Regions from separate parts of the Homo sapiens genome. Here region 2 is linked to region 1. Evidence: fine-mapped expression QTL. A gene starts in region 1. The other region holds a variant in brackets. All regions are shown on one strand. Distances are from middle to middle. Region 1 holds the start of RASGEF1C (RasGEF domain family member 1C). Region 2 overlaps RASGEF1C (RasGEF domain family member 1C).

Evidence for each region. PIP is the estimated chance that this variant, and not a neighbour inherited with it, causes the effect.
Region 2: its variant is fine-mapped to the expression of RASGEF1C in monocytes (TOPMed, PIP above 0.99).

What each region holds. Positions count from the first base shown.
Region 1 is chr5:180,201,482-180,216,275 of GRCh38, forward strand. It overlaps RASGEF1C (RasGEF domain family member 1C), which reads right to left and starts at 7,730. Exons shown (of 14, transcript NM_175062.4): 1 at 7,547-7,730. RefSeq lists an enhancer at 5,729-6,521 and a silencer at 7,646-7,865.
Region 2 is chr5:180,168,718-180,183,511 of GRCh38, forward strand. The region is part of intron 1 of RASGEF1C (RasGEF domain family member 1C); the gene reads right to left. Among named protein-coding and RNA genes, the nearest start is that of RASGEF1C, 33 kb to the right of the region's middle. The variant C/G (reference allele first, on the strand shown) is at 8,770.

The DNA of each region.
Region 1 (14,794 bases):
CTCCTGCCTGCAGCCATCTGTTACCACCAGTCCAGGCAAATTAAGACATCTCTAAGTTAACAGATAATATCCATACAAAGCCAGTATAAAGAGCCGACACTAATCCTTCCCACAAACCCCCAATTTACAAAGGGAAAAACCACACGCAACACCTCAACTTGAATTACCTAATGCTATGGTCTGGAAGTTTACGTCCCCCAAAATTTATAATGGAAACGTAGTCCCCAGTGTGATGGCATTTGGGGGCGGGGGCCTTTGTGACGAGATTAGGTCTCGAGGGCAGAGCCCTCATCAATGAGATTAGTGCCCTTAGAAAAGAGGATCCAGAGAGCTCCCTTGTCCCTTCCTCCATGTGAGGGCGTGAGGAGAGGAGCCATCTGCGAACCAGGATGCGGCCCTCACCAAATACCTTGATCTTGTACCTCCAGCCTCCAGAACTGTGAGAAATCGTTCTGTTGTTTGTAAACTAACCCAGTTTCTGATACAGATGAACAGATGAAGACACACTAAAAATTCAGACACATGAAGAAAATCCCTACATTATACATTCAAAAACTCAACAGAAATGGACCCAAAAAAAGGTAAATGTGAAATTAGAGTTGCCTGAACTCATGAAAAAAAATGAGGAAAAGACCATCATCTCAGAAATGAAGACTGAATTAGAAAATCTCTTAGGGAGAACAGATTTGACTAAAAGCTTAATAGTGTTCATTAAGGAAATTAATGAAAACAACCATAAAACAAAAATAAAATTCATAGAGAAAGCAATCTAGAATACAGATGAAAAACAGATCTAACACAAACATATTATTGGCATCTCTGAAGAAAAAAGGTAAAATAATGGTACATAATATTTAACACTATAATCTAAGAAAATGTTTTAGAAATAAAAGAAGACTTAAATATGCATATTCAAAGAGTCCCCCACGTACCTAAGATCATTTCCAAGAGAATGCCTAGTAAAATGATTAAACTTTAAAAATAAAGAAAAAAAATTCTTTGGAGCTCCAGAAAAACAATCAAGTCACTTACAAAGGAAAGAAAGGCATGTTTATATCAGACATCTTGTCAACAATGTACAAGCAATACAACCCATAACAACATTTTTAAAAATTTAGGGACAGAAAGTAAGAGGCAAGGATTTTATAACCTGCCAATCTATCCTTCAAGTAGCAAGAGTATAGAAAGCAAGCAAGCAGGAAATAACAGTACTCACAAGTCTTTCTTTTTTTTTTTTTTTTGAGACGGAGTCTCGCTGTCGCCCAGGCTGGAGTGCAGTGGCACAATCTCGGCTCACTGCAAGCTCCGCCTCCCGGGTTCACGCCATTCTCCTGCCTCAGCCTCCCGACTAGCTGGGATTACAGGTGCCCGCCACCACGCCGGGCTAATTTTTTGTATTTTTAGTAGAGACGGGGTTTCACCGTGTTAGCCAGGATGGTCTCGATCTCCTGACCTCGTGATGCACCCGCCTCGGCCTCCCAAAGTGCTGGGATGACAGGTGTGAGCCACCGCGCCTGGCCAGTACTCACAAGTCTTTCTTAAGGAACCAACAGAAGCTAAGCTTTGTCCAGTCAAAGGGTGACTGGGAAAACTTTGGCAAAAATAAATATTAGTAATCAGAATCCAACATCCAACAGGCAGTTTCTATGGTGCTCACCGGCATGAGCTCTACCTCTTGGTGTTCATACATTTGGGACTGGGTGGGGCTTTTGACTTTCCTCTGACCAACAGACTATGGCAAAGATGATAGGATATCACTACTGGGATTATGTTACGTTGTTATATCATGTATGTCACGTTATACTATGTTATGTTTTGTTATGTTATGACTCTCTAGGGACTCTTTGCTGGCTTGATAGAGTAAGCAGTCATGCTGGGGAAGCCCATGTGACAAAGACCTGTGGGTAGTCCCGAGGAACTGGGGGTGACCCTAACAAGTTGAGGTTGGCCTCCAGCCAACATCCAGCCAAAATTTTAAGCTCTAAATATAACTACAAAGAACTAAATACTGCCAACAACCACATGAGTGGAGAAGCAAATCCTTCCCTAGCTGAGTCTCTACATGAGAACCTAGTGCTGGCCACCAGCAGTACTCAGCTAAGCCATGCCCAGGCTCTTGATTCACAGAAATGATGAGCTAATAAGCCATGCGTTGCTTTAAGCCACTAGGTCAATGATAACTTAGTACACAGCAATAGATAACTAATACAATGATATTGAAACATACTACAGGCTGGGCGCGGTGGCTCACGCCTGTAATCCCAGCACTTTGGGAAGCCAAGGTGGGAGGATCACTTGAGGCCAGGAGTTCGAGACCAGCCTGGCCAACATGATGAAACCCCATCTCTACCAAAAATATAACTTAACCGGGCATGGTGGTGCACGCCTGTAATCCCAGCCACTTGGGAGGCTGAGGCAGGAGAGTCGCTTGAACCTGGGAGGCAGAGGTTGGAGTGAGCCGAGATCATGCCACTGCACTCTAGCCTGGGCGACAGAGTGAGACTCTGTCTCAAAAAACAAACAAACAAACAACAACAACAACAACAACAAAGTGAAATCTGGGGGAAGACAAAAGTTATACATAGCTTTTTGACTGTGTGGGGGTCAGCATCCCTAACCTTCTCATTGTTCAAGGGCCAACTGTAATTGCTAAACTATATTCCATCGTACGGATATATATCTTGTTTATTTATTCACCAGTTGATGAACAACTGCGTTGTCTCTACTTTTCTGGCCATTATAAGCAATGCTGTTATGAGCATTTGTGTACAAGTCTTTGTGTGGACATTTCATTGTTTTCATTTCTCTTAGATTCCTGGGAGTGGGACTGTTGGGTCATATGGTATTTTTATGTTTAAATTTTAAAGAAACTGCCAAACTATTTTCTACATCATGTCCAAGTGGGACTTATTTCAGAAATGCAAAGATGGCCTAGTGTTAATATTCATACGTTTTGTGTCTGTTTACCTCAGCCTAGTCCCAGACCTGATATTGGGAAATCCATCACATGACTCATTATGCTACTAGTAATCAGGAGAAATATCAGATCATTATCTACATACATGGCTCTAACAAAGGTCAACACCAATCCTGATTTTTAAAACTGCCAATAAAATAGGAGTCAATGGATATTCCTCTATCTATCTATCTATCTATCTATCTATCTATCTATCTATCTCATCTATCTATCTCTTCCCATCCTAAAGTCAGCATCTTTCTTAATAGGGGAAGTATTAGAGGCCTTTTTACTAAGGTCAGGAACAAGGTAAGGAGGCCCACCACATCCAATATTTAATACTGAATTGGAGGTATTCAGCCAATTTAATTAGATAAAAGAAAGCATAAAAATCAGTAGAGAAGCAGTAAAGCTATTTGAATTTGTAGATGACAGAATGACTAACAGAATCAAAGATATGACTAACAACAGGCCGGTAATGGTGGCTCATGCCTGTAATCCCAGCACTTTGGGAGGCTGAGATGGCAGATCATCTGAAGTCAGGAGTTCGAGATCAGCCTGGCCAAGATGGCAAAACCCCGTCTCTACTAAAAATACAAAAATTAGCCTGACGTGGTGGCAGGCACCTGTAATCTTAGCTACCTGGGAAGCTAAGGCACGAGAATCACTTGAACCTGGAAGGTGGAGGTTGTGGTGAGCAGAGATCACGCTACTGCATTCCAGCCTGGGTGACAGAGCGAGACTCCGTCTCAAAATAAATAAATAAATAAATAAAAACAAAAAAAAAGACTAACAATAAAACTAACAATAAAAATTCAGGTAAGACAGAAAGATATAAAATAACATACACGAAACAGTAGCCAATTCAAAGATATAATTGAAGAAAAAACCATTTATAGTAGCAACACACAAGATAAAAATACTCATGAATAAACTTCATAAGAAATAGGAAAAACATATATGAGGAAAATTTCAAAACACTCCTAGAAGTAGTCTTGACAAACAGAAAGACATCTCTCAGTTTTGGATAAGATAACTCAACTTCATAAAGATGCCAATTATCCTAAAGTTAATATACAAGCCTAATATAAACTTAATACGCTCTCCTTCCCCGCCCGAACAGCAGCAACGTGCTGCAACAGCCAGGAAATCCTTGCAGTAAAAAGCGATGGAAGGAACTTGCCCACCACATGTTAAAACACAACAAGGAGAGTTGAGCCCAATCTCTCTCCTCTATTGCAATGGTCTTGAATAAAGTCCTCTTTGCCATTATTATAATATTATTATTATTATTATTATTATTATTTTGAGACAGAGTCTCACTCTGTTGCCCAGGCTGGAGTGCAGGGGTACAATCTCAGCTCAGCTCACTGCAAAATCTGCCTCCCAGGTTCAGGCGATTCTCATGCCTCAGCCTCCCAAGTAGCTGGGATTACAGGCATGTGCCACCATTCCCGGGTAATTTTTTATATATTTTGGTAGAGACAAGGTTTCACCATGTTGGCCAGGCTGGTTTCAAACTCCTGACCTCAAGTGATCTGCCTGCCTCAGCCTTCCCAAGTGCTGGGATTACAGGCGTGAGCCACTGTGCCAGGCCCTCCTTGCCTTTAAATATATTTTTTCTCTCTCTCTCTCTTTCACCAGTATGTGAACAGATGGAACAGACAGACCTGTGAGACACACTAGAAAGCCCAGAAACAGGCCCAGGGCTTGGATTTTTAGTGTATGAGAAAGGTGCATTTCAGATCACTGGAGGAAAGATGACCTTTTAAATAAATGGCTTTGGGACAGAGTGCCAGACACTTAGAAAAAGATTAAATTGGATGCAGAGACTAAGTACACAACTAAACAAATATTAGAAAACACAGATGATTGCTTTATAATTGGGCTTTTCATAGTTAGAAAAGTCTAAGTATGATTCCAAATCTATGTGAAAAGATGTCCAATTTCATTTATAATAATAGAAATATAAATTTAAAATACACTGAAATACTGTTTCTCAGCTCTCAAACCAGCGAGGCTGTGGGGAAACAGAAGACACTGTGATACATCGGTGGTGGGAATGCAAAACGGTGCTACCTCTTGACAAGGAATTTGGGACTAGCTAACAAAATAAATCCACATTCACTCCTACTTCTAGAAGTGTGTTCTAAATATACACCTTTGCAAACATTAACAATATAGGTGCAAAGTTATCCATTACTCCATTATTTTAAATTTAAAAAGACTTGGAAAAAAACAAAATTGTTCATCCAGAGGACATAATTTGAATAAACAATAATAGTACAGCCACAGAACGAAATACTATGTGAGTGTAAAAAAGAATGAGCCAGGTCTCCATGAACTGGTAAGAAGTTACTTTCAGGACATACTTCTAACTGAAGAAAAACCAGGAGCTGTACGGCTAACTTTTGTGATAATGCTTAAATGACTTGTTTTGCAGAAAGAGACACAGGAAGGATAAACCAGAAAATATTTTAAATGGCTCCCAATGGTGTGGGAACAAGGAAGAAGATGCAGGGGTGGGACTGAGACCTTTAAGGATAGCTTTTTAATAGTTCTGACCTTTAAACCATGTGTTTTACGTATTCAAAAAATAAAATTACATCCTAAAGTCTAAAGGAAAAAAAGCTCCAAATTGAATGCAAGTAGAAACACACGAAGCTAACAGTGTGTCCGACTGATAACGTCACCACACAGCACTCTGCCTGCACACCCGTGGAAATCCCGATGCTGACCTAGCAGGTTTTGGTTGGCTTCGGTGTGGATGCAGTCATTCTGAAACTCTTTCGGGGTGCATTGTGGAGCTAAGTAAATGATGAAATATATTCATGTTTGGGGGAATAAGGTTCTCACTGCAGGAGAAAGGGAAAGGAAATATTAATTTTTAGTAAAAAAGGGGCCTTGGCTTGGTCCACTGACAAGGCCTAGAGGCGGCGAGTGCACGCCCCACACTAAGCCCGGGTCCCACGCAAGGAACCAAGGCCCCTTGGACAAATGGCTGACTCTGGATCTGGGTCCAGGTACAAGTGAGAGCTGGAACCACCTCAGAGACTGGCGGGGACATGGCAGGAGGGTGCAGACCCCGGCCTGAAAAGGGCCAGGTCCCGGGCAGGGCCCCACCTCTACCTGGTGGCCTGCGGGCTCCCCCTCGCCAGTCCCGCCCTGGGCTCCGCAGCCCGTCCCTCTCTCGCCTGCCCTCCCTCTCCTGCCCCGGCAGTGCGCCCACCCGCCGCCACGGGCAGCCTTTCGACGCCCAACCTGCAAACCGCCTGGGGGCTGCCCAGGACGTCCAGACCCTGTAGCGTCTCAGCTCCAGCTCCGCCCCCTCCTGCCCTCAGGGATCTCACCCGCGCTGTTCCCCCGGGCTACCCGTCCATCACAGGCTGGGCTCCCCGCTCAGGACAGCCTCCCTGACCAGACGAAGGCTCCGCCGCGCCCTGGTCTCCCTCTGCCCCAGTCACCCTACTGCATGTTCTTCCCAGCACGCATAAGATCTTGGCCATGTCCTTGCTTTTGCCTTTGATTTCTTGTTTGGTGTCCCCTCCCACACCAGCTAGTGAGCACTTACGGGGGCAGGCAGCAGGCGGCACACAGTAGGCGCTCAATGAATGTGGCCAGTGAGTGGACAACCCTAGCCCCCCTCCACCGGTCGCCTGCACAGTGGCTGCACTATGGCTGTTGGAGCCAGTCTTACCAGAGGTGGGACCCCAGCGTTGCCACTCCATGGTCCCGCCCCTCTCTAAACCTCAGTTACTCCACCTGCCTGGCAGGCAGAGCTTCCCAGGACTCTTCTCAGGCTCCCGGGGCTCAGAACTTCTGTCTCTCCCACAGCCCCAGGAGGCAGGAGATACGGGCCCGGAAGAGCTCCACCAGCACCCCAACTTCCCAGCTCTGTCTTTCCCACAGTTTCCCACGCCCACGCTGAGCATGGGGCGGCGTCGCCAGCACCCTTCCCCAAGTCCCCCCAAGCATCGCTTTCCCAATCTAAATACAATGAGTGGACCAGGTGGTCCCTTGATGCCGTCCGCTGTCACTGCGTGAGGGACACACCCAGGACTCCCAGCAGACCCCACTGTTCTCGCAGGCCCTCTGATAGTGGCGCTGGTCCTTTCCTCAAATCCGATCCCATCCTCAAGGGTGACAGCACCCTCTTCCCCCAGGCGCAAGGCCCTTTCCCTTCTGCACGTGCACCGGCAGGTCTGCTTTCCCGTCCCCATTTCATAGACGGGGAAACTGAGGTCCGGTGCGGGTGGAGGCTTTGGTCTAGGCTGGCTCTTCCTGCCACTCTAGCGGCTGAAAGAAGCTTGCTCCTCGCGCCCAGCAGGGGCTGGCGGCGCGCGGCAGAGCTGGGTCTCCCGCCAGGTGGCCGGGGGTGTGCCCTCAGGGTACCCTACCCGCTACCCCCGCGCCTCCAGTCCCGGCGGCCGCGCGGACCCCGCCCCTGCTGACCCCGGCGCACGCTCCCGCGCCGCGCGCAGCCTCCCGCCTCCCGCCGACCCCGCCGCGCCGCCGGCAGCCCTCCCCAGCCCCCGCGAGCCCGCGCCCTTGCCCGCACCGCCAGGTGTCCCTCGGCCGCGCACCACTCACCGGCTCCCGGCGCGCCGGAACTCCGGGCCCGGCCCATGGGCAGCTCCCGGTGCGAGCCTCGGCGCCGCGGACCGGGGCGCCGCCCGCCGCCGCCGCCGCCGCCGCCGCCGCCGCCGCCGCCGCCCGACCGCCCGGCTCCCAGCGCAGCCCGCACGAGCGCCTGGCGGCGGCCCCGGAGCAACGCGGCGCTGCGCCCCCTCGTGGCACTCAGGCAGCGCGGAGCGGGCGGGGCGCGGGGGTGGAGCTGCGGGAGCCCGCGGGCGGCGCTGCACACCAGGGCCCTCCGTGCCCCGGCCGCGGAGCCAAGCGTCCCGCCCTGCGTTCAGGCCTCCGCGGCGGCTGGCCCCCCGCGCCAGGACCACCCGCTCGGGCCGTCAGACGCTGCCCTCCCGCGCGCGGACCCTGGCGGACTCTGCGCCCCAGCTGCCCCAGCCTACACCTCACCTGGTGGGCCTCTGGCGCCCCAAAACCCAGTTCACCCTCTCTCCTCAAGACTGGGCCCGGCCCGGTTCTCTGGACTGGCCACCTAGGTTGTCTGTGTCCCCCAATGGGACATCCCTGGGTGGACACCCCCCCTCCCCAACCTTCTCGGCGCTCTCCCGTGGCCCCCAGGGAGGGTGGACACCACTTTGAAGACACCGGGGTTCTGGGAGGATGGCGATGCATGATTTCACTTTTAGAAAGGGAGAGGGGCTCTAACAGGATCCAGTGGCCTCCTTGAACTGGGTCTTCAGTGAAAAGTTCCCTGGTTGGTCCCAGCATAGAGGTCAGGACACCTGTCCTCCTGTGTCCGCAGTTTGTCCCTTCCGCTGGGTTCCTGGTCTGGCTGACTTCAAGAATGAGCCAGGGACCTTGGCAGTGAGTGTTACAGCTCTTAAAGGTGGTGCGACGGTGAAACCCTGTCTGTACTAAAAATACAAAAAAATTAGCCAGGTTTGGTGGTGGGCGCTTGTGGTCCCAGCTATTCGGGAGGCTGAGGCAGGAGAAGGGCGTGAACCCGGGGAGGTGGAGCTTGCAGTGAGCAGAGATTGCACCACTGCACTGTAGCCTGGGCGACAGAGCAAGACTCCATCTCAAAAAAAAAAAAAAAGAAAAGAAAAGAAAAAGGTGGTGCAGACCCAAAGAGTGCGTAGCAGCAAAATGTCTTGTGAAGAGCAAGAGAACAAAGCTTCCACAGCAGGGAAAAAGACCACAGCCGGTCGCCGCTGTTGCTGGCTGGCGAGGGGTGGGCGGGCAGCTTTTATTCCCTTATTTGTCCCCACCCATGTCCTGCTGATTGGTCCGTTTCACGGAGTGCTGATTGGTGCGTTTTTACAGAGTGCTGATTGGTGCATTTACAATCCTCTAGCTAGCCAGAAAAGTTCTCCAAGTCCCCACCCGACACGGAAGTTCCAGCTGCCTTCACCTCACTCTGCTTTAGTCAGGACCTGCCTGATGAGATGTGGCCCAAAACTCAACCCAACCAGCTTGAGCAAAAAGCTGGTTTGTGGATCATAAAAAGCCAAGGTTTACTGCTTAGAGGAATGGCTAGATCCAGGTACTTAACCTATGTGCATAGAAACTGGCCTCCCCTATCTCCCAGTCTTTCTGTGGCAGAATGGCCCTGGGTTGACACCTCAGAGAGGGCACAGCTGCCTGATAGTTGCAAGGACAGCCTGCGGCTGCCACACACAGGCTCCGAGGAGCTGAGCTCAGGCCATTTCCAAAGACCTAGGGAGCAGGAATAGCAGGCCTGGGTGTCGTCTCACTAGAGCTGAGGCAGAGTTAGTCCTGTGTCAGCTTTGAGGATGGAGTAAGGTGCTGTTCCAAGCTTCCGTGAAGGCTGTTCCTGGAAGAATGGACAGGTTAAGAACAACAGTCCAGCCCATTTCTTGAACAGTTAGGGAAACTGAGTCCTGGAGAGAGCAGGCAGCTGCCTAGGGCATACAGATGTATTAGAATGAATGTGGGCCAGGTAGCTAGGCAGGGAGACAGCAGGGCTGGGGCCAGGGCCAGGGCCAGAGGCTGGCCCTAGGGAGGGTGACATCTGAGACCAAGGGTCAGGTGTGGGGAAAGGGAGGAGGAACAGAGGCAGGCACTTGGTCAGGGGTGAGCAGTGTGCTCCCAGCAGATAGACAGATGCGCCTCAGGGTGCAGGCACTGGGCCCTCCCTGCATCTTCTCCGATTATCACCCTATGCCCCTAAGCCTCAGGTCCAGTCCCAGGGTGTCGCCTGGAGGAAGCCAGGAGTCTAGGAGGAGAGGCCGCAAGAGGCACCTCAGAAGAGCTGACCCACTCAGCTGTGTTGTTCTGGGGTCTGGGCAGCACTGAGCGGCCCTCCTAACCAAGTGCAGGTCAGGGTGGTGAGGCCAGTCTTTCCCCAGCTCACCCTTGCTCTGTGAGCAAAGGCTGCTGTCCCCTGATAAAGAACTTTCTCCAGCAAGTGGCTGGGGCCACTGAAGCATGATTGCCCTGCTGGGAGCAGGGTAGGGGATGCTTGGATGAGGCCAGGGCAACTGGAACATGGGTGTGGACTAGCTCATGGCCACAGCTCCGTGTCCCACAGGGGTGAGGGTGGCAGAGCTTTGCTCTGGGACAAAGGAGAAGACCGTGTCCCCTGAGGTCTCCTGCGTCCTCTCCCTGCCAGACCCATCGCTGCCGAGAGTTGGGCCTGTGCTGAGGAAGACGCATGAGCTGCAGTCGCGGCTCATGCAACACCAGGAAGGTTTTTGAGCCTCGCGGCCAGCGTGGAGTTCTGCCCTGAGCCTCCAGCTTTGTGGGACCCTGGCTGCAGGTGCCACCACTGGGCCCTGGGAGGTATCTGCTCCCGCCCCCTCATAGCCCACCCAGGAGTGCCCTCTAGCAAGGAACCTCTCCTGCCCAGCCCCTACCCTGCCCACCCAACTTCTCACTCCAGAACGTGCCCCGGGGCTAATCCCTGAGTGAGGGCATTGGGACAGAGGGTGAGCCATCCCTAGGGCCGTCAACTCAGTCTCCCCTCACCCCACCACTGCCCTGAGACATCTATTGGGTGGACACTTACCTAGGGCCTATGTGTGCCGGGCACCATGCTGGGTGCTGGGAATATAGCAGAGAGCCCGACATGGGGTTCCTGCCCCCTGGAACTCATGGTTTAGAGAAGGGAGGCTGAAAACTAACCATACAAACAAAAGAGTAAAAACAATCATTTCGGAGAGCGCCGAGCGCCATGAAGGAAGCCATACTGGGGAGGTGGTTGAGTGCGGTGGGGCTGCTTTAGAAGGGAGGGCCCAGGAAGGGCCTCTCCAGGCACATCAGACAAGGCACTGGCCATACAGGGTCTGGGAAAAGCACCGTGGGCAGAGAGAATAGCAAGGGCGAGGCCCTGTGGCTGGCATGGACTTTGCATTGTTTTTGCAAAAAAGAGGCTGGAGCCAAGGTGGAAGGGAACAGGGCCAGGCAGGGTGTCCAGGTGGGCAAGGAGCTGGATCCTGTCCTCTGGGTGTCGACACAGGGGCAGGTGTGGCTGCAGCTCTGCCAGCAGCACCCCCAGCAGGAGGGGGTGGTGCTGTCCCCAGATGTAGGGGTCCTGACACCCATGAGGCCTTTCCCAGCACCTTCAGCCCCTGCGTAGCTGCCCCTGGCCTGGATGGCACATCCTGCACACGTGTGACTCTGGGAGACCTGAGTGTGCCCCACCAACGCAGCACTGGGTTAGTGGGGCTGGAGTCCTTGTTCACTGGGTGTGGCCACGAGGGACAGGCAGCAGGCCCACGAGGAGTTGGCAGGCAGGGGAGAGCTGATGAGTACAGACCTGGGCAGGGGGCAGGGAATGGGGCAGACCTGAGGGCTGTTTCTGGGGGAGAAGCCACAGGACTGGATGATGGGAGATAGGAGAATGTGTGAGAAGTGACAGCGATGGCAGGGGTCCTGGCAGGATGAATGGGGTACCTTTCCCAGGAGGGCGAGGAGCCCCTTCACAGCAGACAGCACCTGCTGGGACTGTGGGGCCAGGGGCATGTGGAGGAGGTCTGGAGGCAGCGGGGCCTGCGGGTGCCTGCCTGGTGCGGGTCCTCAGGGAGGAAGGAAGGACAGCACGGGCTCCAGCAGCTGCAGGCGCTTACGCAGAGCAGGAGCCTGTGAGGCCCTGCAGTACGTCTGCCCGGGATGCTTGGCACAGCCACAGCACGTGACTCAGGGAAGGGGCACCGGGCAAGGCTGCTGAGCAAGTTCACCAATAAAATCAGGAAACACTGAGGACAGAACTTTGGGCTCTGGCCAAAGCATTTTATTAGCCGACCCGTAACTCGTCCATTCTTGGTCTGGTGAAAACCCTCCAAAGTTACTGCAAGGGCAGAGCTCCAGGAGAAGTCATCCTATAGTCAGCCACGGGAGGGGGCCACATTTAATGATCCTTTACAGTCCAGGGCTGCCAACCCACTGAGCCTGGGCTGGGAGGAGCAAGAGAGAGGGTGTGTGTGTGTATATGGATTTGCACATGTGTGCATGCATGGTATATGCAGTATGTGTATGTGCACTTGTGTGAATGTGTGGTGTGTTCTATGCATGTGTATGCAGCACATGTGTGTAATGTGTGTGTGTTGTATGCTTGTGTATGTAGCGCTGTTTTGTGCACGTGTGTGTATATATGTGATGCTGTGTGCATGAGTGTGTGGTATATGCATGTGTGTGTTGTCTGCTATGCACATGTGTGTGTGCTGTGTGCATGTTGGTGCTGCGTGCATGTATGTATGTTGTGTGCATGTGCGTGGTGTATGTATGTGTTGTGTGCATGTGTGCTCTGCCTATGTGTGTGGTGCCATGTGCATTCTTGTGCTCTATGCATGTGTGTGGTGCTGTGCATGTGTGTGCTGTGTGCATGTGGGTGTGCTGTATGTGTGGTACTGTGTGCCTATGTGCTGTGTGCATGTGTGTGGTGTATGCATGTGTGTGGTGTATGTTTTATGCTGTGTGCCTGTGTGCTGTGTGCATGTGTGTGGTGTATGTTTTATGCTGTGTGCATGCATGTGCTGTGTGCATGTGTGTGTTGTGTGCATGTGTGTGTAGCGTATGCATGTGGTGTGCTGTGCATGTGTGTGCTATATGCATGTGTGTGCTGTATTCATGTGTGGGCGGTTTGTGCATGTGTGTGTGTGCTGTGTGCATATATGTGGTGCTGTGTGCATATGGTGTGCTGTGTGCATGTGTGTGTTGTATGCACGTGTCGTATGCACGTGTGTGGAGGGTAAGTGTGGGTCTGATCCCAATCTGGACTGGCCCAAAGATGAAGGAAAGCATCACAGATGGGATCCCCTGGGAGCAGAGGTAGAGATGTGGGTGCAGGTTGTTTATGTGGGGGGGGGATCCCAGGTGACCAGCCTGGTGGAGCCCCTTTGGGGAACTGCAGGAAGCATCTCGGAATTTCTCCTGCTGGGCAGAGGATTTCCCCCACGTCTCCTATGCTTTCAGGTTGCTGCTGCATGAAGGCTGAGGAGAGTTCCGGGGCTTAAGAAACATTCCAGAGGCAGAAATGCAGGAGCTGGAGGTGGTCACTGCAAGGTTCCAGCATAGAGCCATTGCTCACTGTGCTGAGCGCAGGTGGAGAGCTCGTGGTGCAGGTGCAAACCTTGCCAGCTGCAGTGCACCCCTCGGAACACTCAAGATTCCCCCAGGTCCCGCATTAAGTCCACGAGGTCACCTCCCTCCCCTACCACCCTGCTAGGGTCCCTTCACCCATAGGCAGTAGGTGGCTTATCCAGGGGTGACCTGCAGTGTTGGAGCACTGGTAACCAGGCTCTCCTTGGGCCATGCCCATCTATGTTTATAATAGGGCATGGAAATGAGAGGGGCCTGTGGCTCTTCTGAGTCCTTGACATCATCCCCTCACCCAGTCATGCCTCACCAGGAGGAGGCAGGCTGGGCACCCCTGCTGGCAGGGACTCCTGGCCCCACCTGCTGAATCACTGGCATGAGCAGTCCCAAGTGGCCTGGAGCATGGGTTTAGGTTTGGGGAGTCCTCCTGGGTCCTGGGGAAAGCGTCCAGCAGAGTGAAATCTGCAGGCACGGGAAGCACCTCCCGAGGGTCTTCAACCCCAAAGCTTGGGGGAACTTGTGACTCGATGGGGCCGTCAGGTTGTAGCTGAGGGCTGGGGATGTAACCCTCCTCTTCCCTACAGAGTACCCCAGGGCACCTGTCACACTCGAGGTTTCATCTCTCCCGGGCTATCAAATGTCAGCATGTGTGGAATCACCTGGAATGCCTAGGAAAAGCCAGCAACCCACGGCTCGGGTGTGGGGTTGGGGTCTGGGCGGCCCTGCTCTCGGTATCTGGAACAAGTGGCCCAGGTGAAGCTGATGCAAGCCGAAGATGGGCAAACTCCAGAAATGCTGGTGTAGAGGGATCCAGGCTTACCATCCCCATCTGTGGTAGGCAGAATAACGACCTCTGAAGAAGACCACTTCTTAATCCCCAGAACCTGTGGATATGTTGCCTTGGGTGCCCGAAGGGACCTGGCAGGTGGAATTAGATGAATCTTGAGATGGTGAGATGATCCTGGATTATCCCGGTGAGCCCAGCGTAATCACAGGGGTCCTTACACGTGGAAGAGGGAGGCAGAAGGCAATCAGGCAGGCGGCGATGGGAGCGGGGTCTGGGAGATGCTGCCCTTCCGGCTTTGGAGGAAGGGGCCATGAGCAGAGGAATGTGGGTGGCTGCAAAATGCCAAGAAACAGATTCTCCCCAAGGGCCTCCAGAAGGAACCAGCCCTGCTAACACCTTGCTTTCAGCCCACTAAGACCCACGCTGGACTTCTGACCCACAGAACTGTGCTGCTTTGAGCCACTACGTTGGTGGTAATTTGCGACAGCAGCAATAGGAAAGGAAGACACCATCCCACAAGAGAGGCTGGGAAAATCGGGTGACTCGCGCAGGCGATGCCCAAGCCTCCCACATCTCTCACTGGCTGCCCCGTGTGGGTGGGAGCCTATGGGACTGGGCTTGGGCTATTCCCCTCCCCAGAGCCAACAGCCTGGCTGGGCAGAGTGGTCGTGAAGCAGTGCTGGCCTCCCCCAGGAGCTGGCTTAAGGCGCATGTCCCCTAGGCCCCTGCCCAGACTTCTGACTCAGAGGGCTCGGGCAGGGCTGGGGAATCCGAGTCTGTTAGCAGGTGCTCCAGTGGTCCTGAGCCCAGCCAAGTTAGGGAGCCATTGCCTCAACTGTTTCCTTCCCGTACATTATGGCTGGGCCTGTCGCTTTTCCCAGAGGGCCCGCAGACAACCGGAACGTGCCACG
Region 2 (14,794 bases), 33 kb before region 1:
GGCTCCTGTGGGACCTACGCAATGCTCCCATGGGATTACTTGTGGGCTGGGGTATGAGAGAGCAAAGATTTTTAAAATGGATTTTCTCCATGCTCTGTGAATAATAAGAGACCCTCCTCCCGTTCCTCAAACCAGAAGCAGAGGGTTTCTCCTGGAGTTCACTGTCAGTGCTGATGTCCGTCCAGGTTCCATGCTGCCCTGAGTGCAGGCTTGGCTAGAGCGGGGGAAAAACGGCAAACCTACTTCCAGCTGGGTAGTACTCCAAATGCCAGTTTTCAAAGCCCTCAAGTAGCTTCTCTGTGCGTTCTGTTGGTTTTAAGCTGTGTTCAGTGGGAGAGTGGAGTATGCTCAGACTAGCCCAGAACCAGAAAGCTGTTGTTTATGCTGCAATTTCATTCATTTTAAAAATAAATCACGTTTGCTTTCATTACATTAATGTTTATGGTCACTTTCTATTTACGGGAAGTGATACTGATGATTTAGGTAGGAATATAATATTTCATTACAAAATATATTTATTTTAACAAACGAGCTGATTTTATGAAACAAAGTAAGCAAGACTAGAACAGATCTAACTCCCTGCTGGCTGCGCCCCGAACAGGCCATCCACACTCCCACCTCGCCTCGGAGTAAGGGCCTTCATGGTTCCCTCTGTTTGGAACACATCCCCTGGCCCCTTTGAAGGGGGCTCCAGTGTCTGCTCCTGGAAGCAGCGTTCACAAATGCAGTGGTTGGGGGCAGGGGCCCATGGGTTTTGGAGGCAGCCACTAGAGGAAGTGAGTGAAGTGAAGGAAAGGTCCTCTGAGCAACAGGGCCCAAGGGGAAGGTCTGGAGAGGGCTGCTGGTCAGCTGGGAGAGGGGGCTGGGGGACGTGAGCAGTGGGGGCAGGGGGGCGGGCTCCTCACTGAGCCTCAGTTTTCCCTATGCACAACAAGGATCATGAGCATGGAGAGGCTGTGAGCCTGTGTACCCAGCACAGCGTGGGGACTTGGTCTGCACCCTCATTGGCTACGTCACACAACCTGCCCTGGCCCTTCTCGTAGCCCCATGCGCACCCCCCAGCACCCACCCCCCGACCCCATGGGGCTCCAAGCCCGCCTCTCTGGCCCAGCCTCAGTTCTCCCCTCGCCCTCCCCCTGTGCAGGCTGCCTTCCCGCCCTGGGGCTGCGTGTTTGCTGTCCTCCCCCTGGGCTCCCTGCTCCAGGCCTCCGCAGGGCTTCTGCCTGCCCCTCCCTCGGAGACCTTCCGTGACCACTGCTCCACACGGCACTGGCTGCCCAGCCGCTCTCCACCCTGGACCCCGTTTCATTTTCCTCGTGGCTTTTCTCCAAATCCAAATCCATGTGTCTCCCCAGGGACTGGGAGCTCCACTGGGGCACCACCTTGCCTGTTCCTGCTCGCGGCTGCACCCCAGCACTAGAGCAGGTTTCAGCAAAAGCCTCCTGGCCGAGTGGATGAGTGAGTGAGTGAATGATGGCCCCCGGGATGCGGGAGGGGACCAAGCCGGGCAGCAGGGGAGGGGCCGAGAGCTCAGGAGGCCCTGGCCAGGGCTGAGGCTGACAGAGGTGACCCGGCTGCTCCCATAGGGCCGCCAGCCAGGAGGCAGCTGCAAGGAGGGGCGCGGGCCTGTTCTGTGAGGGAGAAAACAAGCGTCCTATTTACCACGAGAATGAATATCGGGCTCTGTGTGAAAATCCCACTTGCTCTGAGATGTGTGAAGCCAGCAGGGCCAGGGACGCAAGTTGTAGCGTCTCATTCAACTCCCCACGCCCCAGCCGAGGGGTACTGTCCTTCCAGCCCCCGCGCTACGCAGCTGCTGCCTGGTCCTCGCCTGTCCCCGCGGAGCCCCCGCCCTGGCCAGGCTCACTGCCCTCCTGAGACCTGCCAAAGTCACCATCTGGTTTCCTCTTTCATCGAACCTTCCGGAGGTCCCTGTGGCAGTCACGAGCCACACCTGGCCCCCCAGCGGTGCTCTCCCTTTACCCCAGTCCTGCATGGGGCCACCAGACCTCTCCCTCCCGGGCCTGCCTGCCTGGCCACCTGCCTCGGAGCCCCGACAGCCAAACAGGCTTCACAGGTGCATTGTGGCATACCCCGGTCCTGCTCCGCTTGTCTTCAGGGCCAAAGTCGGAACTTGGTGGCAGGTGTGGGTCTGCCTGCAGGCAGGGCTCCCTGCCCCTGCCCCTGTCCCCTGTCCCCACCTTGCCCTGGGGGCCTTTCCCTGCCTGGAGAGTGGGGAGGAGGGGCTGTCAGCGCTGCTGCTCCAAACTGGAGGCCCTGAATCCCAGAGAGCATGCAGATGGCCCAGGTCAGAAGACGCGGCCGGAGTTCCAGGACTCAGGGACCACAGTGTGAGACGCGTGCAGCCAGGCACCCCCATCCAGGCATCCTGTGGCCTTCCCCCAGCCCAGGAGTGGGACCCCCGAGGGCTTCACATCTTCAGGGGGAAGGAGCCAGGGGAGCACAGGGAGGAAAACCATTCTCAGGAGCTTAGGGTCTGAGGCTTCTGAGCTGCAGGAGCCCGGGACTTTCTGCTTGGGAGGATCTGGAAGAAGTGTGACCTGTTTCTGGGGAAGGGAGGGCAGGTCCTAAACTGCTGACCCCAGAGGCCACAGCAGCAGCCTCGTGTTCAGACCTGAAGACTGGTGGAAAAAGGACATTAACAAGCACCTCCTCCTACAGCCCGGGGAATCCAACCCGCCCATGAGAAGATGGGAGACCCCGCAGTGACAAGCACCCCAGCACCCTCAGAGCCCACCTCCGAGGCCGAGGGACGTGCTGAAATAACTGTCACACGTGTGGATTGTCTGTTCCAGGGCAGGCCTCCACAGCACTCACACTCAGCCCCTGGGTCCCAGGCTCTGTCCCCACGCAGGTCAGCGTGAGCTGCCTGAGCACCTGCACACTGCAGTGGGCACCCTGCAGGGATGCCAGAGTCTAGGGCAAAAATAGCCAGTTCTGTCTCCAAGTGATGGCGTGTGTCACCCACACCTCCTGACAAACACCCTTCGGCACTCTGGAGAACAGCGAATGCGTAGCAAAAATAAATGCTTTGTTTTCTCCCTGCGGCTTCTGGGAGTCAATTCAAAGAGTGGTCTTGGGAGGTAAGGCTGTGAGGGCCAGGACCTGCTCGGCAGCCAGGGTGTGGGCCCACTGGGGTCTCCTCCGCTGCCTGGCTGTGGGGCGGGCCCCTCAGCTGTCGGACCTCAGCTTCCACATCTGTAAAGTGGGCTCACGAGACCCATGCTATAGGTGGGCCTACTGGGTTAGGGGTGGGGTCAGTGGGTGCACTAAAGGCCGACACCCGCAAGGAATCTGCACTTCTACCCTTACATTCATAGGAATAAAAATAGTGTTTAAAAAGTCTCAATAGCTATAAATAGATCTGTGTGTTCTGCCCTGCCCATCTACCCTGTCCGATTCACCTAAAGGTAGGCCAGGCAGGACGGGCAGGGCCACCTTCCCTGTGATGAGAGCACAGTGGGCAACAGCAGCCACTGGGTGTCCCAAGCCTGCCTGAGCACTCAGGGCCCCAGCATGCCCAGATGGCTGGTGGTCCCTCCCACCTGCTCCCCCAGCCCTTAGATGCCACCTCCAGGAAGGCTCCCATGCCTCCTCCTAGGCAGGAACGGCCACCTGGCCTGGGATGCCCAGCTCTCTACTGCTGCGTGTGTTCCCCTGGCCTCTCTCCTGCATGTGACCAGGGCCCAGGGGTCATGAGGCAGCCAAGGAAATGAGGGCTGAGGGGCAGAGGGACAGGGGGCACAGCAGCCTGACACGGAATCTGTGGCACACTCCACTCCAGATGCTGCCTGCCCGCCACTTCTCTCAGACCCTCCCACAAAGCCTAGCCCCGGGTGTCTGCCAGGGCCTTCCAGCCCCAGCTGGCAAAGAGCCAGGTCTGTACTGTCCTTTCTCCAGAATCTCTGCCTGAGGCTCCACCCCAGAGCTTCGGGCTCCCAGCCCTTCTCTCACGCCCAGCTCCCCAAGAGGGGAGGCCAGGCCACCTCTGCCACCTGCTCCCCACCTCCCTGGGCTCCTCTGTGCTCCTCATCTCTGTGCCCCCTGCCTCCTGTACTCCCTGCCACCCTGCGCTTCTCACCTCCCTTGTCCTCTGCCTCCCTGTGCTCCTCACCTCCCTGTGCCTCTCCCTGTGCTCCCGCCTCCATGCCTTTGCCCATGCTCTATCCTCTTCTGGGTTGCCCTTTCCTGCCAGTCTGCCAGCTGAGGCCCTGAGGGTCAATGCATCTTCCTTTCCTCTGCCCCAACCTGACCCTGGCAGCTGAGCACAGCCCTTGGGGCCCTTCTGTCCCCTGGCAGGACCTGCGGCACCCTGCCTGGCTCTCCTGCCTGCTCCAGTTAAGTCACCTGCAGTTGACAAGCCGCCTGGGTGTCCTGCATGGGTTGCATAATGCCCTTTTAGACTGCGAATTTACTGGCCTTATTTACACACTGGGGCCTTTCAGGAGAATCAGTGCGTCTGCTTTCCTGCAAAAACTCAGAAGAGCCAGCTACACAGGGCCTGCATTCCTGCCTGGTACTGTTTGTTGGCCAGAACCAAGGGCTGCCCCTCGACCTGGGGATGCCACCACCTCACTGTCTCCGTCACCTGCTCCCTCTGCCCCACCTAAGCCTGCCACCCGGTTTCCAGACCAAAGCCTCTGTGGCTGCCCAGGGTGTAGGCCATGAAGGGGACCCTGAGGTGGGGAAGGCAGATCCCACACTGACTACAGCTGTCTAAGCAGAAGCAGCTATGTGGACGTCACTCCCTGGGGCCATTTCCTTCTAGCTGGAGATGTATCTGTCAAGGTCTGGAAAATCTTAAATGACAGAGAAATAAGAATTGAAAGAGAAAAGAATTTCATTTCTCCCCTAAATTTCAAATTTGGGGGAATGAGTTAAAACTGGTGCAGTTGGCCGGGCACGGTGGCTCCCGCCTGTAGTCCCAGCACTTTGGGAGGCCAAGGTGGGCAGATCACAAGGTCAGGAGTTTGAGACCAGCCTGGCCAACATGGTGAAACCCCGTCTCTACTAAAAATACAGAAATTAGCTGGGCGTGGTGGTGGGCGCCTGTAATCCCAGCTGCTAGGGAGGCTGAGGCAGGAGAATCGCTTGAGCCCGGGAGGCGGAGTTTGCAGTGAGCTGAGATTGTGCCACTGCACTCCAGCCTGGGCAACAGAGCGAGACTGTCTCAAAACAACCACCAAAAAAAAAAAAAAACCTGCGCAATTTTTCATTCATTGTGATCCATGACATGGAGGCTCAGGGGTTGGGGGGCCCAGACGTGGGGATGGTCTCAGAAAGTTGGGGAAGTGTGGTCCTCCTCGCTGCTGCTCTCGGGGGCTCCTTCCGCCTGGAGACGGTGGGCACCAGAGAAACACTCAGTGCATGGAGCCTGGGCCGTGGTGTGGGCTTGATGAATGCTGAGTGACTTCGGGCAGACTGTTTATCTGAAAATAACTCCAAAAAGCAAGGAGCCATTTAAATACTTCTCATTCTTGCTATAAGAAGAGGCTCTCACAGCTAAACTTTAACAAATTCGTCATCGTCTTTTCTGGGAAGAACGAGGGAAGATGAAGTCATCAGTTTATGATAAAACAAAGAAACATACTGTTTTCTCTGGCTTCCCTCAGAAACTTCAAGCAGGCAGAGAAAAGGCCCTTGTCAGAGATGCATGTGTGTGCGTCTGTGTGTGCGTGCGTGCATGTGCACACGTGTGTGTCTGTGCATGTGCGTGTGTGCATGTCTGTGTGTATGTGTGTCTGTGTGTGCGCGTGTGTGTCTGTGTGTGCGTGCGCGTACACACGTGTGTCTCTGTGTGTGCGTGTGTGCGTGTGTCTGTGTGTGCACGTGTGTCTGTGTGTGCGCACGTGTGTGTGTGTGTGCACGCATGTGTGTGTCTGTGTGTGTGTGTGTGTGTGCGTGCATGTGTGTGTGGGGTGCATCTGAACCCCCAGCCCAGTGGCTCCACATGGAATCCTGGGTGCAGGCCCCTCTCTGGGCTGTGGTCCACAGCCAGCACTCAGACAGCATGCGCACAGATCGCACACACGATCGTGACCGGTTCCTGCTTGACTTCACTGCGCAGCAGTTCTCTGATCTGCTTTTCCCAGAAAGGGAAACCGAGGCTCAGAGAGAGGGGCCGACCTGTGCTATGTATGTCACTCAGCTAGAACATGAGGTCACGAGACTGTCCCACCCCTCTTGCAGACTTGAACTGATAGTGGGTTTTATCATCTTCTGAGAGTGGGTTTAGGGTTGCCAGGCACAGGGACTCTGCTTCAGACTTGAGAGGGTCTCCACACAGAGGGACCCTGGCAGCTCAGGTGGGGAAAGGCCCCAGCGGCCAGCACCTGCTGCCCAGGGCTCCACACCAGGGACCCAGCCGCCATCCTGGAAGACACTCCAGACCAGGAGCAGATGGTGTGAGAACCCAAGTCCTGTGTAAGAGGTCACTTGGCTATGGGCAACTTTGCAGAAGCCAGCCTGGCCTAGCCTCTGGGGTTGGAGCCCCCCCAGCGCCGGGGAAAGGCGTTTCTGTGCAGGGCAGGCACTGGACACCTGTGCCCACCCTCAGCATGCTCAGAGGCCCCCAGACGCCAGAGGAGCTTCTGGAAAATGCAGATGCCCAGGCCTCGCCCCAGCTCCTGAGCAGCCCTGCTGCTCTCCAGACTCATCCTGGCCAGCTCCTTCAAGCAGAGAAGGAGTCTCAGATTTGGGGCTTCTTGGGCACACCTGCCATGTGCAGCCCCCTGAGTCCTGCTAAGAGCCCGGCCTTGGGCTCAGGACCCTCAGGCCATGAACCTGCATTTCGGTGCTTGTTGAAGGAGCCACTCCAGGGCCACACTCGGGACATTTCCCGAGCCTGAGCAGTCCCTGTGTTGTTCACATGCTCATGTCCCCCGCATCAATCCACAGTTTAAAACGACCACTTCTCCCCGCCAAGAATATCTATGAGCTCTAATGCAATAGTGACATGCCTTTAAAAATGTATTCAAAGGGCCGGGCGCGGTGGCTCACGCCTGTGATCCCAGCACTCTGGGAGGCTGAGGCAGCAGATCACGAGGTCAGGAGATTGAGACCATCCTGGCTAACCCCGTCTCTAGTAAAAATATAAAAAATTAGCCGGGCGCAGTGGCGGGCGCCTGTAGTCCCAGCTACTCGGGAGGCTGAGGCAGGAGAATGGCGTGAACCCGGAAGGCAGAGCTTGAAGTGAGCGGAGATCACGCCACTGCACTCCAGCCTGGGCGACAGAGCGGGACTCCGTCTCGAAGAAAAAAGAAAGGTATTCAAAGAAACACATAATAATGGCTAGAGACAGTGACAATGCTGCATTACTGTGTTCAGTCATCAGCCCAACCCAAAGAGGCCACATCGCTGGCCACAAGGAGACAAGGACACGTGGATGTTGGATAGGGTGGACTTCAGGACCTCCTGGTTTGGGGTCTCTTAGACAAAAGTCCCTTGGCCTGGGCCCTGGTGGCCATGCCTCCCAGAGAGCAGGTGGGCCCTGGAGGCAGGGGCCCCAGCCCCAGGCCTCCCCACTCCTGCAGGCTTCTGGCAGGCAGAGCAGCCGTGGGAGGGCACTTGACCCAGCCACGCTGAGTGCCTGTTTTAATCTTGCGAAGACTCAGCCTCACCTGAGCCCATCAATCCAGTCACCACAATAACGACTTCTGGCCAAGTCTCTGCTGCTCTGGGCTCTGCATGAGGCAGGCCCCGCGCCATCCATCGCACCCTCCTGCCCCTGCCAGGACCAGGCAGAGGGGAAAGGCTGCCTGTGCGGGCCCAGCTGTGCCACTCAGGTAACAGAGGGCCTTGGCTTTCCAAGGCTAATACTTTTTTTTTTTTTTTTTTGAGATGGAGTCTTGCTCTGTCGCCCAGGCTGGAGTGCAGTGGCGCAATCTCGGCTCACTGCAAGCTCCGCCTCCCGGGTTCACGCCATTCTCCTGTGTCAGCCTCCCGAGTAGCTGGGACTATAGGCGTCTGCCACCATGCCCGGCTAATTTTTTGTATTTTTAGTAGAGATGGGGTTTCACCATGTTGGCCAGGATGGTCTCGATCTCCTGACTTCATGATCCGCCCGCCTCGGCCTCCCAAAGTGCTGGGATTACAGGCGTGAGCCACCGCGCCTGGTCCCGGGGCTAATACTTTTTTCCAGAAAGATTCAGCCACAGCAGAAGCTATGAAAGCATGACTGCTGCGTGGTGCCAGCCGTCAGGGTTGGGCAGTGGTCAGTCCTGCCCATGTCTCCCCCTGGCATAACCCAAGACAGGGCCCCTGGCCTGGCCTCCAACTCCCACCCAACCTTGGTCAACCTCCCAGAGGAGAGGGCTGCAGACGAGGGGTTTCCAAGGGACGGCAACTTTTGCCAGCATGGAGGAGGACCAGGGTGAGAGGTGAGACTCTCAGAGCCTGACGGAGGGGCTGGATGAGGGGCAGTGGGATGGGGGGCTGGCTGGGCTACTTCCAGAAACGTCCAGCCGAGTAGAGGATGCATTCAAACCATGTGCACATCAGCCCCTCAGCCCCGAAGCCAGGGGCTGCTTTCCCTTTCCGGCCCCACCTCCCCACCCAGTGAAGGGGCTGGCCTGCCCGGCTCACCCAGCAGCTTCCCCAAAGACACAGGCTGTTCATCGGCTCCATTTTTAACCTTCCTTAGTCCCAGCAGCCCCAGCAAAAGCTCTTCGGTGAGTGCCTGCGCAATCTGCCCGGCTGGGCCGCAGCAGTCCACGGGCAGGGCAGAGCCCCGGGCTTCCTTCCGGGACC[C/G]CTGCCAAGGCTCAGCCCTGCTGCAGCTGTCCAAGGCCATGGCCTCTGCGGCTTCTGCCTGGCCAGCATCTGTTCTTCCCTCTGAAAACAGAGCCCATTTGTCCTTCCTCTCCTGCCCGTGGTAGGAGGACATGGCCCTGGTGCCACTTGGGGAAGGAGTTGCGTTGGTCTGTGACAGTTGGGATGGCATGTGATCCAGGCCCAGCCACTCAGTGCCTTTCATCTCCCTGGCCTCTGGGATAAATCCATGGGCAGGCATGTCACCTGGGTGGGCCACCAGACTCAGTTCGTGGGACATTTATTTGAACTGTCTGAGCAGAGCCTCTCTCTCTGCTCAGGGCAAGGTAAGGACAGGAAGTAAGTATGGAGCTGGTGGGGGCTTTCTTGTGAAAGGGGCCCACATGGAGGAAACGGAGCCAAGACTCACAGAGACCGAGACCATGTCCCACATCCAGCCATGCCTGAAGCCCACCTTGGGCTTTTTTTTTTTTTCTTTTTGAGGTGGAGTCTCGCTCTGTTGCCCAGGCTGGAGTGCAGTGGCATGATCTCGGCTCACCGCAACTTTCGCCTCCCAGGTTCAAGTGATTCTCCTGCCTCAGCCTCCTGAGTAGCTGGGACTACAGGCGTGCACCACCAAGCCTGGCTAATTTTTTTTTTTTTTTTGTATTTTTAGTAGAGACAGGGTTTCACTGTGTTAGCCAGGATGGTCTCTATCTGGCCTCGTGATCTGCTTGCCTCAGCCTCCCAAAGTGCTGGGATTACACGTGTGAGCCACTGCACCCGGCTGGCTTTTTTTTTTTTTTTTTTTTTTTGAGACGAGTCTCACTCTGCCACCTAGGCTGGAGTACAGTGGCGTGATCTCAGCTCACTGCAGCCTTTGCCTCCTGGATTCAAGCAATTCTCCTGCCTCAGTCTCCCAAGTAACTGGGACTACAGGCATGTACTACCACTCCAGGCTAATTGTTGTATTTTTAGTAGAGACGGGGTTTCACCATGTTGGCCAGGCTGGTCTCGAACTCCTGACTTCAAGTGATCTGCCCGCCTCAGCCCCCCAAAGTGCTGGGATTACAGGTGTGAGCCACCGTGACTGGCTATCCCAGGGCTTTTTATTTACAGAAGCAAATGCGTTTTCTGAGTCCTTAAGTCTGAGGTGGGTTTCTCCACTTGAAATAGAAAGAACCTAACACCCCAGCTCTGAAGTGCACCATCACCAGCTGCTGCTGGCTTTCATCACCGGCTTTCCACGCAGCAGACCACGGCGCAGATGTGGGCGGGGTCCTTATTGGCCATGAGACCCCGGGGCGTCACTTTCCTCAGACAGCCTTATATGTAAAATGGGCCTAATGCACCCCCGGCTGATATGTGGAGGGGACAGCTGGTCTAAAATTCAACAGCAGAAGGGACTGGAGAATGTTCTTGGGGGGGGAGGGGCGCAGGTGCCAAGGAGCGGAGTGGGGAGGAAGCCAAGGACAGCAAGGTCTGAGGGCTGAAGCAGGATGAGGGAGGCCCCCGGCCATGGGGCCTGGGGCCGGGAGGAGGCGGGTTTATGACCATGGGATAGTCCTGCAGCGTCTCTGCCTGCTGAGTGAAGAACGGGCTGGGGCTGGAGGGAGAGTCGTGGGTCTGGATCGAGCTGGAATCAGGGGCATGCAGCCCAGTGCCTGCATTCTGCGCAGATTGGGAGGGTGGCGTGCATGGGCCGTGTTGATGTTTGGATGCAGGAGGGGGACTGCTGACATAAAGGGAGCACTCAGCCCCCGGGGTTTGTGCGTTACCCACCTGGGTGACTTGTCTGAGATGAGGGAGGCTGCAGGGAGAAGGGAGTAGAGGGTGGTGGGAGGTAAGAGCAGCAGGAAGCCCAGGGACAGGAGGGGGCTTGGAAGCCCAGAGGGCAGCATTTCAGGAGAGAAGGGCCGATGGATGGGCCAGTGGTGCACAGGGAGTGGAGCAGCCCAGGGAACCCATGGTGTGCTGAGCAGACCAACCCAGGACAGGGGCGTGAAGGCAGAAGCCAGCCTGCACCAGCCTGCACCGACACCTTTGACCTCAGACCCAGCAATTACCCTAAGGAGCTAACCCAGCAAGAAAGCAGTGATCAATACAGCAGCTGCCAGGGTGAGGAGGCTCCCACGCTGCCGAGAGGCTGGGAAGGAGACGCGTCCTGCCACTGGGCGTCAGGTATGCAAACTGTGGTCTCTCCATTCAAGGAATACTGAAAGGAACCCTGAGGAAGAAGCTCTGAGCTACTGAAGGAGAGAAGCCAAACAATGCACACTATGCTTCGGATGAATGGATCTTTGCAAAACAAAAACGTACATCTCCGTGTACCCAGAGATAAGTCGTGTACATTAAATGATAGCAGACTCATGATGTGGAACTGGGGGAGTAAGAGGTGTCAGTTTCCTCCTTTACCCTCTCTACATTCCTGGCTTTGCGTCCGTCAACGAGTTTTTATTACTTTTACCAACAGAAAGAAAAGCACAAAGGAAAGGAAGGACCGGGCGAGTGGGCAGAGAGAAGGTGGAGTGCAGTGATGGAGCTGCCAGCTAGGCGGGGGCAGGCCAGGGCCACCCCAAGCCCTGGGAGGCGGTGGCCTGCTCACACTGCCTGTAGCACATCCACCAGCAGCTCTGGGGGGAAAGCCAGCAGCCAATTACACAAAAAGGCAGCGGGCACAGCTGCCTCTCTCTCCAGCCACTCTCAGTCTGTGGAGGTAATAACAAGTAGAAGCATTTAGGGCATGCTTGAGTTCGACAAAGAGCAGGTCTGATTGACTCCAAGTCAGCTGTGCACATGCAGGCTGGTGGAAAGGGTGGCCTGGCCGCTGCTGTCAGATTTATGACAGCCACAAAGCTGCCTCTTTCCTAAAGCCAGTGCCACCACTGCTGCTGTTTGAGACGAGCTCCACGACCCAAAGCAGTCAGAAGACAAACTGGCCGGTGCACCATGCTTTGGTTTGCAGTCAGACTGACATGTGCACAGTACTTAACAATTTGCAGTCTGACATGTGTGTACCTCACTTCACAGTTTGCAGAGTCCTTTCAGAGATGTCATTGCTCCTGAGTCCCAGGTCCCTGCCCAGAGGTGCCAGGAGCAAAGCCGCTGCCCCAGACTGGCCATCGGTGGGAGCACCCCAGGACCTGGCTCCTGCCCAAGGAACGGCCAAACCCATTGCCACAAGCAGGGGCCCTGGTGCCTCCAGCTTCTCTTTTCAGCCAGCATGGCTGTGGTTGTGTTGTTTACCTTTTTACTGGAGTATAACCTACATCCTGGAAAGCACACAAGCTTGAAGCGTGCAGCTAGATGAGATCTCCGAAGTGAACCAGGCCACCAGCACCCAGATTGAGAAGCAGAACATTTCCAGACCCTGAAAAGTCCACCTGTGCCCCTCTTCACCCACTAACCCTTTAATTTCAATTGCAAAGAAACACCAAGAGGGATCGCCGCATACAGCACTATCAATCAATGTTCACACAAAACTAGAAATGGGAGGGATCACCACGCAGGGCACTATCAATCACTGTTCACACGAAACTCGAAATGCGTCACGCCCAGGTGGGTACCTGTCCTAAATGCAGGAGCAAGAGGACGAACAGGAACCCCACGTGGCTGCGGACTACTAGCCTGGGGCTCTGCCCCTCCCATCACTGGCAGTCAGGCAGTGCCTCCCCAGGATGTGCCAGTCCTGCTGGGCTGCAATCCCACCGGGATCAGGGACAAAGGAAATGGCAGCTACCAGGTAAACATAAAAGACTTAAAAAATGCCTTTAAAACATACTTGAGTGTTTAAAGCAAAAATAATACTGTAGTGTGGGGTTTATAAATATGTGGAAAAGAGATGTATGACAACACTAGCATTGTCGTCGGTTGGACTGAGTCCCTCCTAAACAGATGACTGAAGTCCTCACCTCCAATATCTCCAAAACGAGGCCTTATTTGGAAATAGGGTCACTGCAAATGTAATGAGTGAAGAGGAGGCCACACTGGAGTGGAGTGGAGTGGGGTGGGGTGGACTCCTAATCCAACATGACTAATGACCTTAGAAGACGTGGGCACACAGGAAGAGCACCATGTGACACTGAGGGCAGAGACTGGAGTGATGCGGCTTCAAGCCAAGGAATGCAGAAGATTTCTAACAAGCCGCCAGAAGCTGGGAACAGGCAGGGAAGGGTTCTATTGGGTTCAGAGGGAATGTGTCCCATGAGCCCCTGATCCAGAACTCCAAATGAGAGAACACATTTCCGTTGTTTTAAGCCATCCCAGTCTGTGACACTTTGTTAAGGCAGCCCTAGGAAAGTGATACAAACACAAGGCTGAGTGGAGCATGAACGCCACTGGCAGGATGTCTTCATGCTATATATGCAGCAGCACACTATTGAGACCACAGTTTCTTCGGTTGGTTTGTGGTCTCGCTGACTTCAAGAATGAAGCCATGGGCCGGGCGCAGTGGCTCACGCCTGTAATCCTAGCACTTTGGGAGGCCGAGACGGGCGGATCACGAGGTCAGGAGATCGAGACCATCCTGGCTAACACGGTGAAACCCCGTCTCTACTAAAAATACAAAAAAAATTAGCCGGGCATGGTGGCGGGCGCCTGTAGTCCCAGCTACACGGGAGGCTGAGGCAGGAGAATGGCGGGAACCCGGGAGGTGGAGCTTGCAGTGAGTCGAGATCGCGCCACTGAACTCCAGCCTGGGCAACAGAGCAAGACTCCGTCTCAAAAAAAAAAAAAAAAAAAAAAAAAAAGAATGAAGCCATGGACCTTCACAGTGAGTGTTACACAGCTCTTAAAGGTGGTGTGTCTGGAGTTTCTTCCTTCCGGTGGGTTTGTGGTCTCGCTGACTTCAAGAATGAAGCCGCGGACCTTCACGGTGAGTGTTACAGCTCTTAAAGGTGGCGCGGACCCAAACAGTGAGCAGCCGCAAGATTTATTGTGAAGACCAAAAGAACTCAGCTTCCACAGCTGGAAGAGAACCCCAGCAGGTTGCCGCTGTTGGCTGGGATGGCCAGCTTTTATTCCCTTATTTGTCCCTGCCCATGTCCTGCTGATTGGTCCATTTTACAGAGTGCTGATTGGTCCATTTTATAGTGTTGATTGGTGCATTTTTACAGAGTGCTGATTGGTGCTTTTACAATCCCTTAGCTAGACACAGAGCACTGATTGGTGCATTTTTACAGAGTGCTGATTGGTGCTTTTACAATCCTTTAGCTAGACACAGAGCACTGATTGATGCGTTTTTACAGAGTGCTGATTGGTGCTTTTACAATCCTTTAGCTAGACACAGAAAAGTTCTCCAAGTCCCCACTGGACCCAGGAAGTCCAGCTGGCTTCACCTCTCACTATCACCTGGAGGGAGACTGGGATCAAGCTGTGGTGGTCAGAAGAGTTCTAAGATGGCCCTGGATTCCTACTCCCTGGTGTACACACCCCATACAATCCCCTCTCCTCTTAGGTATAGGCAGGACTGTGAATATGATGGATGTCACTCCTGTGATTAGGTGATGTTATCTGGCAAAGATGAAGGGAGTTTTGCAAGTTTAAGTAAAGCCTGTAATCAGTTGACTTTGAGATCATCAAAAGGGAAATTATGCTGCATGAGTGTAACCTAAACAGATAAGCTTTTTTAAAAAAAGGTCAGATACTTGCATCAGAGACTCTCCTGATGGTCTTGAAGAAGCAAGCCACCATGCAGTCTACAGTGGCAAGGAAATAAATTCTGCCACCAGCCACATGAGCTTGGAAGAAGACACTAAAACACAGATGAGACCCAAGCCCCACACTTGTGAGACCCTGAACCCCTGACTCATGAAAATTCTAAAATAATAAATTTGTGTTTTACATTACCAAGATCGGTTTAATGTTTTGGGTAGCAACAGAAAAGTAATGCAATGAATGATACCTAAATTAAGCACTAAAATAACACAGCAAAGGGATATAGCTTAAAAAATCAACAAAGGACATAAGCTAGAATCATAAAAAAAAACCCAATTAATTCAAAAGAAGTCAGAAAAAAAAAAAGATACAA